Homo sapiens: one gene and its partner. The protein of the gene in region 2 interacts with the protein of the main gene of each other region in a pairwise test. Each region holds a gene or a part of one and is shown on either strand. Other genes may lie near its edges. The genes, in order: SMAD9 and CLPB.

Region 1 (3,245 bases), on a different chromosome or scaffold from region 2:
TTAAAAATATACACAATATTAAAAACCTGTTCTTATTTTACTTTAGATGAGGGAGGAAAATCCCCCAAATTTCTAGGTACTTTCATATATATACTTGCCATGCACTAAACACTGCATTGCTTGGAAAAATATTTCACACCCTCTTTAAAAATGTACAATTTAAGATGGCAGTTATGCTTGTAACAGACAGCACTTCAGTAATCCAAGAAGTTTCTTCATTTATACATTTTATCTCAACTCTTTCTAGCATTAGTGCACATGGTAGTTTTTCTAATTAAATTGTATTCAAGGTAGAAATGATCATGTGAGAAAGATATATGATTGAGCTACTACTGTCACCTCTTACAGTTACTAGTGTTAGCTAATAGAAACTTTCATATATACACATAGAAAAGAATTATTACATTTTACATTGAAAAATGTAATATATGGCCCATGTAGTGTATAGAAAAATCTGTAGTTTATTGGTTCATCAACTATGTATTGTGCACCTACCTATGGGTGTCAGGTACAATGTTAGGTACTGTAGAATCAAATGTAAATAAGAGACAGTCCCAGCCCTCAGGGAGCCGAGAACCTAATAGTGAATCTGTTTGTACAGACATCTTCATGTTTCAGAACTTTTAAAACAAAACAAAATAATGTAATCTATCATCTTTTGCTTGAAAGAATGTGATTGATTTCTTATCTCTGTTTTGAAATTATTTCCTTACTCTTCTGCAAAGTCAGGTAATGGATTCCTTGTATAAATGCTACTTTTCTTCCATGTCTCAAAGTTGTTTTTTTTCCTCCCCTTTCTTCCCTGTTTTCCAATAATTCTCCATGTCCCCTTTTCTTAGAAAAGGCATTAATATGGTGAATCTTGTATGGGAACCATTCCATGGGAGAACTTCAACACAGTTTTTGCTCCAGAGATCAAACATAGCTTTCGTGATCTCTCTACCAGCTATCTAACTTATCCTCTGGTAATCTTTTTTTTTTTTTTTTTTTTTTTGAGATGGAGTCTCGCTGTGTCACCAGGCCAGAGTGCAGTGGCGTGATCTTGGCTCACTGCAACCTCTGCCTCCCGGGTTCGAGTGATTCTCCTGCCTCAGCCTCCCAAGTAGTTGGGACTACAGGCTACCACGCCCAGCTAATTTTTATATTTTTAGTAGAGACGGGGTTTCACCATGGTAGCCAGAATGGTCTCTATCTCTTGACCTTGTGATCCGCCCGCCTCAGCCTCCCAAAGTGCTGGGATTACAGGCGTGAGCCACTGCGCCCGGCTTCCTCTGGTAATCTTACACCTTTACAGAATTAATCTAAACTGGTGGCTCATAAATGACATTAAAAACAAAAAAAAAATCTGGATGCAGTGGCTCATTCCTATAGTCCCAGCACTTTGGGAGGCCAAGGCGGGAGGATCATCTGAGCCCAGGAGTTTGGGGCTGTAGTGAACTATGATCATACAACTTCATTCTAGCCTGGGTGACAAAGTGACACCCTGTCTCTAAACAAAAATCAAGAAACAAAAAACTTGTATTTCCCTGCAGCTTTGGGAAGCCAGAACACAATATTGCAGTGAATCTGAATTTTCTGTGACAAATAAATTATTAAATTGGCACATATGATCATCACCAGTCATGTCTCATCAAAAGCCTTTATTATGATGCTTGTACATTTTGAAGAATTTAGAATTAATGAGAAGTTAACCCTTTAGTCATTGTAACACAATCATATTTTAATCAGCTTTTTCTTTTGCTACCAAGAGTTTCAAAAAATAAATGCAGTATTTGATTTCAGGCTGCTAAATGGGCTCATTTAGCATTCATTCCTTGATGTAGACATTAAAAAAAAAACTGAATAGCATTCTTTCCAGGATAACTAATAAAGCAGACATGCTAAGCCTATAAATACATCAGCACTGCAGCACACGTTTAAGGTTGCCACGGACAAGGATCACACAATAGAGAACACTGTAGTAACATTTCGGTCTGCTCACAAGACCCAGAACATTGATCAGTTTTTGTTGTTGGTTTATTATTTTTCTGTTAAAAAATTGTGAAAAGTTTGTTTTAGCTAGATGATATTTTAATAGCTGCGAGTGCTTTGGAACTATAAAGATGTCACTACTTAACACATATACCTTATGTTTTGTTTTGTTTTGTTTTACACTCAGTATAAATCAGGAGAAGTTAGCCAACCATCTAGCATTTAGAATCCTCTTTTTTATTGTCTTCTAAGGATATGGATGTTCCCATAACAGCAACAAAACAGCAACAAAAACATTTCATAAATATCACTTGATAGACTGTAAGCACCTGCTTAACTTTGTGTCCCAAATATTTAGTGTGTATATATATATATATATATACACACACACACACATATATATTCAACAAATAAAGCAAAATATAACATGCATTTCACATTTTGTCTTTCCCTGTTACGATTTTAATAGCAGAACTGTATGACAAGTTTAGGTGATCCTAGCATATGTTAAATTCAAATTAATGTAAAACAGATTAACAACAACAAAGAAACTGTCTATTTGAGTGAAGTCATGCTTTCTATTATAATAACTTGGCTTCGGTTATCCATCAAATGCACACTTATACTGTTATCTGATTGTTTATAATAAAGAATACTGTACTTATATGTCTTTTGGCTCATTTTTCCTGTAAACCTCATAGAAGATTCACTGTATGTGGGTCTGCAGCTCCTTAAGTCAATTAATTTTAAACCATTCTATTTTGAAAATGGGATGTTAAATTCCACATGCTATAGAGAAATTAGGTAGTGGTTTTGAATTAAACACCTTAGAATAACCGTCATGAAGTATAGTTCTTGAAGATACTTCACAGTAACTTTAGAAAGGATATATGTAGAACCTTTTTCTGGATAGTAGCAAATACGTGATATTGCAGTATATAGGAAAGAATGAGCACTTTCATTATTGTAAACATCTGTACATTGCTACAGATTGCCTATTAGAAAGGTGCTAAAAGGCAACTGGTGAGGGAAAACTAAGATGAAATCCAAAGAAATATGAACACATCATCTAAAAATGTAAATTCTCAATTCCTTTCATCTAAATTTCCTTCTAATCTTAAAAAGGAAGGGGAAACTCTATTACCTATAAGCAGCTTTCTTATTTACTTGATCAGAGTTGTCAATTTTTTTAACGAAATGGAGCTCTGTATTCAAAAAAAGTGTTTTGTGGAACTCCAAAATAAAAACACATGAAAGATATGCCTGTTTAGATC
Region 2 (3,606 bases):
CCTGGTTCAAGCAATTCTCCTGCCTCAGTCTCCCCAGTAGGTGGGATTATAGGCACATGCCACCACACCCAGCTAATTTTTGTATTTTTAGTAGAGATAAGGTTTCACCATGTTGGCCAGGCTGACTTGAACTCCTGACCTCAGGTGATCTGCCTGCCTTGGCCTCCCAAAGTGCTGGGATTACAGGCATGAGCCACTGTACATGGCTGGGATTTCCCATTCTTGGTTTCAAGTCTAGTTGTGTATTAAACTTTCTTGTCTTATTACATATATTAAATATTTCTGTTTGAGGTGGAAGAGAGTTTGCCTGAAATTACTCTCTGTTGTATATTGGTCAGAAGTCATCCCAAATCATTCTACACAATGCAAACAAAGGGTCTTTTAAAACACAAATCTGGTCATTTCATTCCCTTAGCATGGCATTCAGGGCACTTTGAAATCAGGAAACTTGCCTCTCTAGCTTCATTTTCCACCAATTTCCTCTCTTCTCCACACTCATACACAGCTACTATACTCCAGCCACAGACAGTAACCCTTCTCTTTCCTTTCTCTCATAATTGTATTTAGGGTGTGTGTTAATAATAAATTTACATTTTCCCTAATTTTTGCATACTGTCAAGATGGGATTGCAAAAGTAGTAATGACTATTTCCTGAGAGGCTAGACCCAGAAAACAGTAGCTCCATGTAGCATCGCCTCTGGACATAGTAGTGCAGTATGACCTTAACATTATTTAATTAAAAGTGCTGTCAATTAGATTTGTATTAAATTATTTATTAGGTTTACATTAAGTTATATATTAAGAAATGTATATTTTAGTATTAAATCATCCTTTCTAAAACTTGATGTTTTTTCACTTGTCAGGTCTTATTTTTATGCCCTTCAATATGGTTTTCTTGTTAAATTTATTAAGTATAATTTTGAACAGGTAATACATTAATATGGTTCAAAGCTTACTAAAAAGTATTTAAAATAACATAGCAGTGTTCCCCTTCCATTGCTGTCCCTGAATTGCCCAGTTCTGCTCCCTTCCAGAAATAGGTTATGTGTAGAAGAGCAAATATATATATACCTATTTGTTGCAATTGTAAATGGAATGTTTTTCTTTTGATACTGTTTCTAGTTGATTATTGCTAGAATACAGAAAAAACAATTGATTTTTGTACAGTTATCTTTTATTCAGACACTTATCCATGCTAATAGGCTTCTACTATAGCCTTTTTTTTTTTTTTGGAGATAGGCTGGAGTGCAGTGGCACGATCTCATCTCACAGCAACCTCCACCTCCTGAGCTCCAGTTATATTCCCACCTCAGCCTCCCAAGTAGCTGAGACCACAGGTGGATGCCACCACAACCAGCTAATTTTTTGCAGAGATGGGGTTTCACCATGTTGCTCAGGCTGGTCTTGAACTCCTGGGCTCAAGCAGTCCACCTGCCTTGACCCCTCAGTGTTCTGTTGAGATTACAGGTGTGAGATACTGCACCTGTTTTTTTTTTTTTTTTTTTTTTTAAGAGATAGGGTGTCACTCTGCCACCCAGCCTGGAGTGCAGTGGCATGATCATAGCTCACTGTAACCTCATACTCCTAGACTCAAGGAATCTTCCACCTCAGCCTCGAGTAGCTGGGTATACAGGCATGCACTACCATGCCTGGCCTGAAATAACTTTATACTTAAAAGTTGCAAAAACAATACAAAGAATTCATGTACATCATTCCCTCAGATTTCCCAAATGTTAACATCTTTTTTTTGTTTGTTTTTGAGACAGTCTCACTCTGTCATCCAGGCTGGAGTGCAGTGGTGTGATGTAGGCTCACTACAACCTCTGCCTCCAGGTTCAAGGGATTCCTGTGCCTCAGCCTCCCAAATAGCTGGAATTACCGGCATGTGCCACTATGTCCGGCTAATTTTTGTACTTTAATAAAGAGGGGTTTCACCATGTTGTCCAGGCTGGTCTCGAACTCCAGACCTAGGTGATCCACCTGCCTGGGCCTCCCAAAGTGTTGGAATTACAGGTGTGAGCCACCATGCCTTGCCAACACCTTACTTTTTGCTTTATCATTCCGTGTGTGTGTGTGTGTGTGTGTGTGTGTGTGTAGTTATCTGAAATACTGGCAAACCAAATTAGAGGTTTACCTTTAACCTCTAAATACTTACATTTTCTGAAAACAAGGACGTTCTCTTCTGTAATCATAGTATAATTATCAAAATGAGAAAATTTAACAACACTAGCACTCTCTAGACATTTAAATAACATTTAAGTTCTTGATGTAATAAATTAATAAATTTCCTGACACTGAGCCTTGCATTGCTAAAATAAACCTTATGTAATCAGAGTGTGCAATTCAACTTGATTTTATTTGGGATTTTTGCATCTATGGCCATAGGTGAGATTAGGCTATAGCATTCTTTCTGGCACTTTATCAGGTTTGAGTACAATAATAGTTAAAACTCATCTATTTTGGGGGTTGAGTGATGGCTATAGGAGTGTGTTTACTTTGTAATCATTCACTGAGCTGCATACTTGTGATTTGTACAATTTCCCATATATTTTTCAATTAAAAAGTTTAATTAAAAACAATTTTTTATTTTTGGGACATGGTCTCGCTCTGTCACCCAGGCTGGAGTGCAGCAGCACAGTCTTGGCTCACTGCAACCTCTGCCTCCTGGGCTTAAACCATCTTCCCCACCTCAGCCTCCCAAGTAGCTGTTGACTACAGGCAAGCACCATCATGCCTGGCTAATTTTGGTATTTTTAGTAGAGGTGGGGTCTTGCCATGTTGCCCAGGCTGGTCTCAGACTCCGGGGCTCAAGTGATCTGCCTGCCTTGGCCTTCCAAAGTGCTAGGATTACAGGTGTGGGCCACCACCATGCCTGGCCATCAATCTTTTACAAGGATAAAATTTTATTTATTTTTCACCATCTTATGGTGCTCAAAAAGGATAAAATTTTAACCACCTTTCCAGTTTCTTCTTGGGTAACCAACTGGCCTATTCAAACTATTTCTAGGATCAGTGTTTGCTGGGAAATTATCCATTTCCTCTGATTTCAAATTTGTTGCCATAGAGTTCTATTCTTCTTCTCAATTCCTCAATATATATGGTTATGTCTAATTTCTCATGCCTAATTTTGTTAATTTTTTTGGCTCCTTTCCCCTTTTATCAGGCTCAGGAGGTTTTATCTATTTTATTGGTGCTTTCAAAGAATTTTTTAATTTATTCTTTTTCTTTTTCCTACCTTGTTAAGTTTAGCTTTTATCTTTATTGGTCCATTTTCTATTTTTTATGGTTTAAGTGTGTTTCTTTCCTAAATTTCTTTCTTGTTTTTCTTCTTTCACTATATTGAGGAATTTCCCTAAATTTTAAAATCACTACACACCTTTGAGTTTTTCTTTTTGAACAATAAACATGTTACACTTTCATTTCCAAGTCTGGTCTCATGTATTCTAGGATCCTCAATAAGGAATTTGGGGCCGGGTACAGTCGTTGACGCTTGTAATCTCAGCACTCTGGGAGGCCAAGGTGGGTGGATCACTTGAGACCAGGAGTTTGAGACTAGCCTGGCAAACATGGTGAAACCCCGTCTTTACTAAAAATACAAAAAAAATT

Evidence for each region.
Region 1: the proteins of CLPB (region 2) and SMAD9 interact in a two-hybrid assay, tested with the Homo sapiens proteins (one large-scale study listed by BioGRID and IntAct).

The regions. Positions count from the first base shown.
Region 1 is NC_000013.11:36,844,223-36,847,467, reverse strand, and holds the end of SMAD9 (mothers against decapentaplegic homolog 9), read left to right. Parts: 3' UTR 1-2,637; downstream 2,638-3,245. UniProt on the Homo sapiens protein: Transcriptional modulator activated by BMP (bone morphogenetic proteins) type 1 receptor kinase. SMAD9 is a receptor-regulated SMAD (R-SMAD).
Region 2 is NC_000011.10:72,284,738-72,288,343, forward strand, and holds the end of CLPB (mitochondrial disaggregase), read right to left. Parts: 3' UTR 758-3,606; downstream 1-757. UniProt on the Homo sapiens protein: Functions as a regulatory ATPase and participates in secretion/protein trafficking process. Has ATP-dependent protein disaggregase activity and is required to maintain the solubility of key mitochondrial proteins.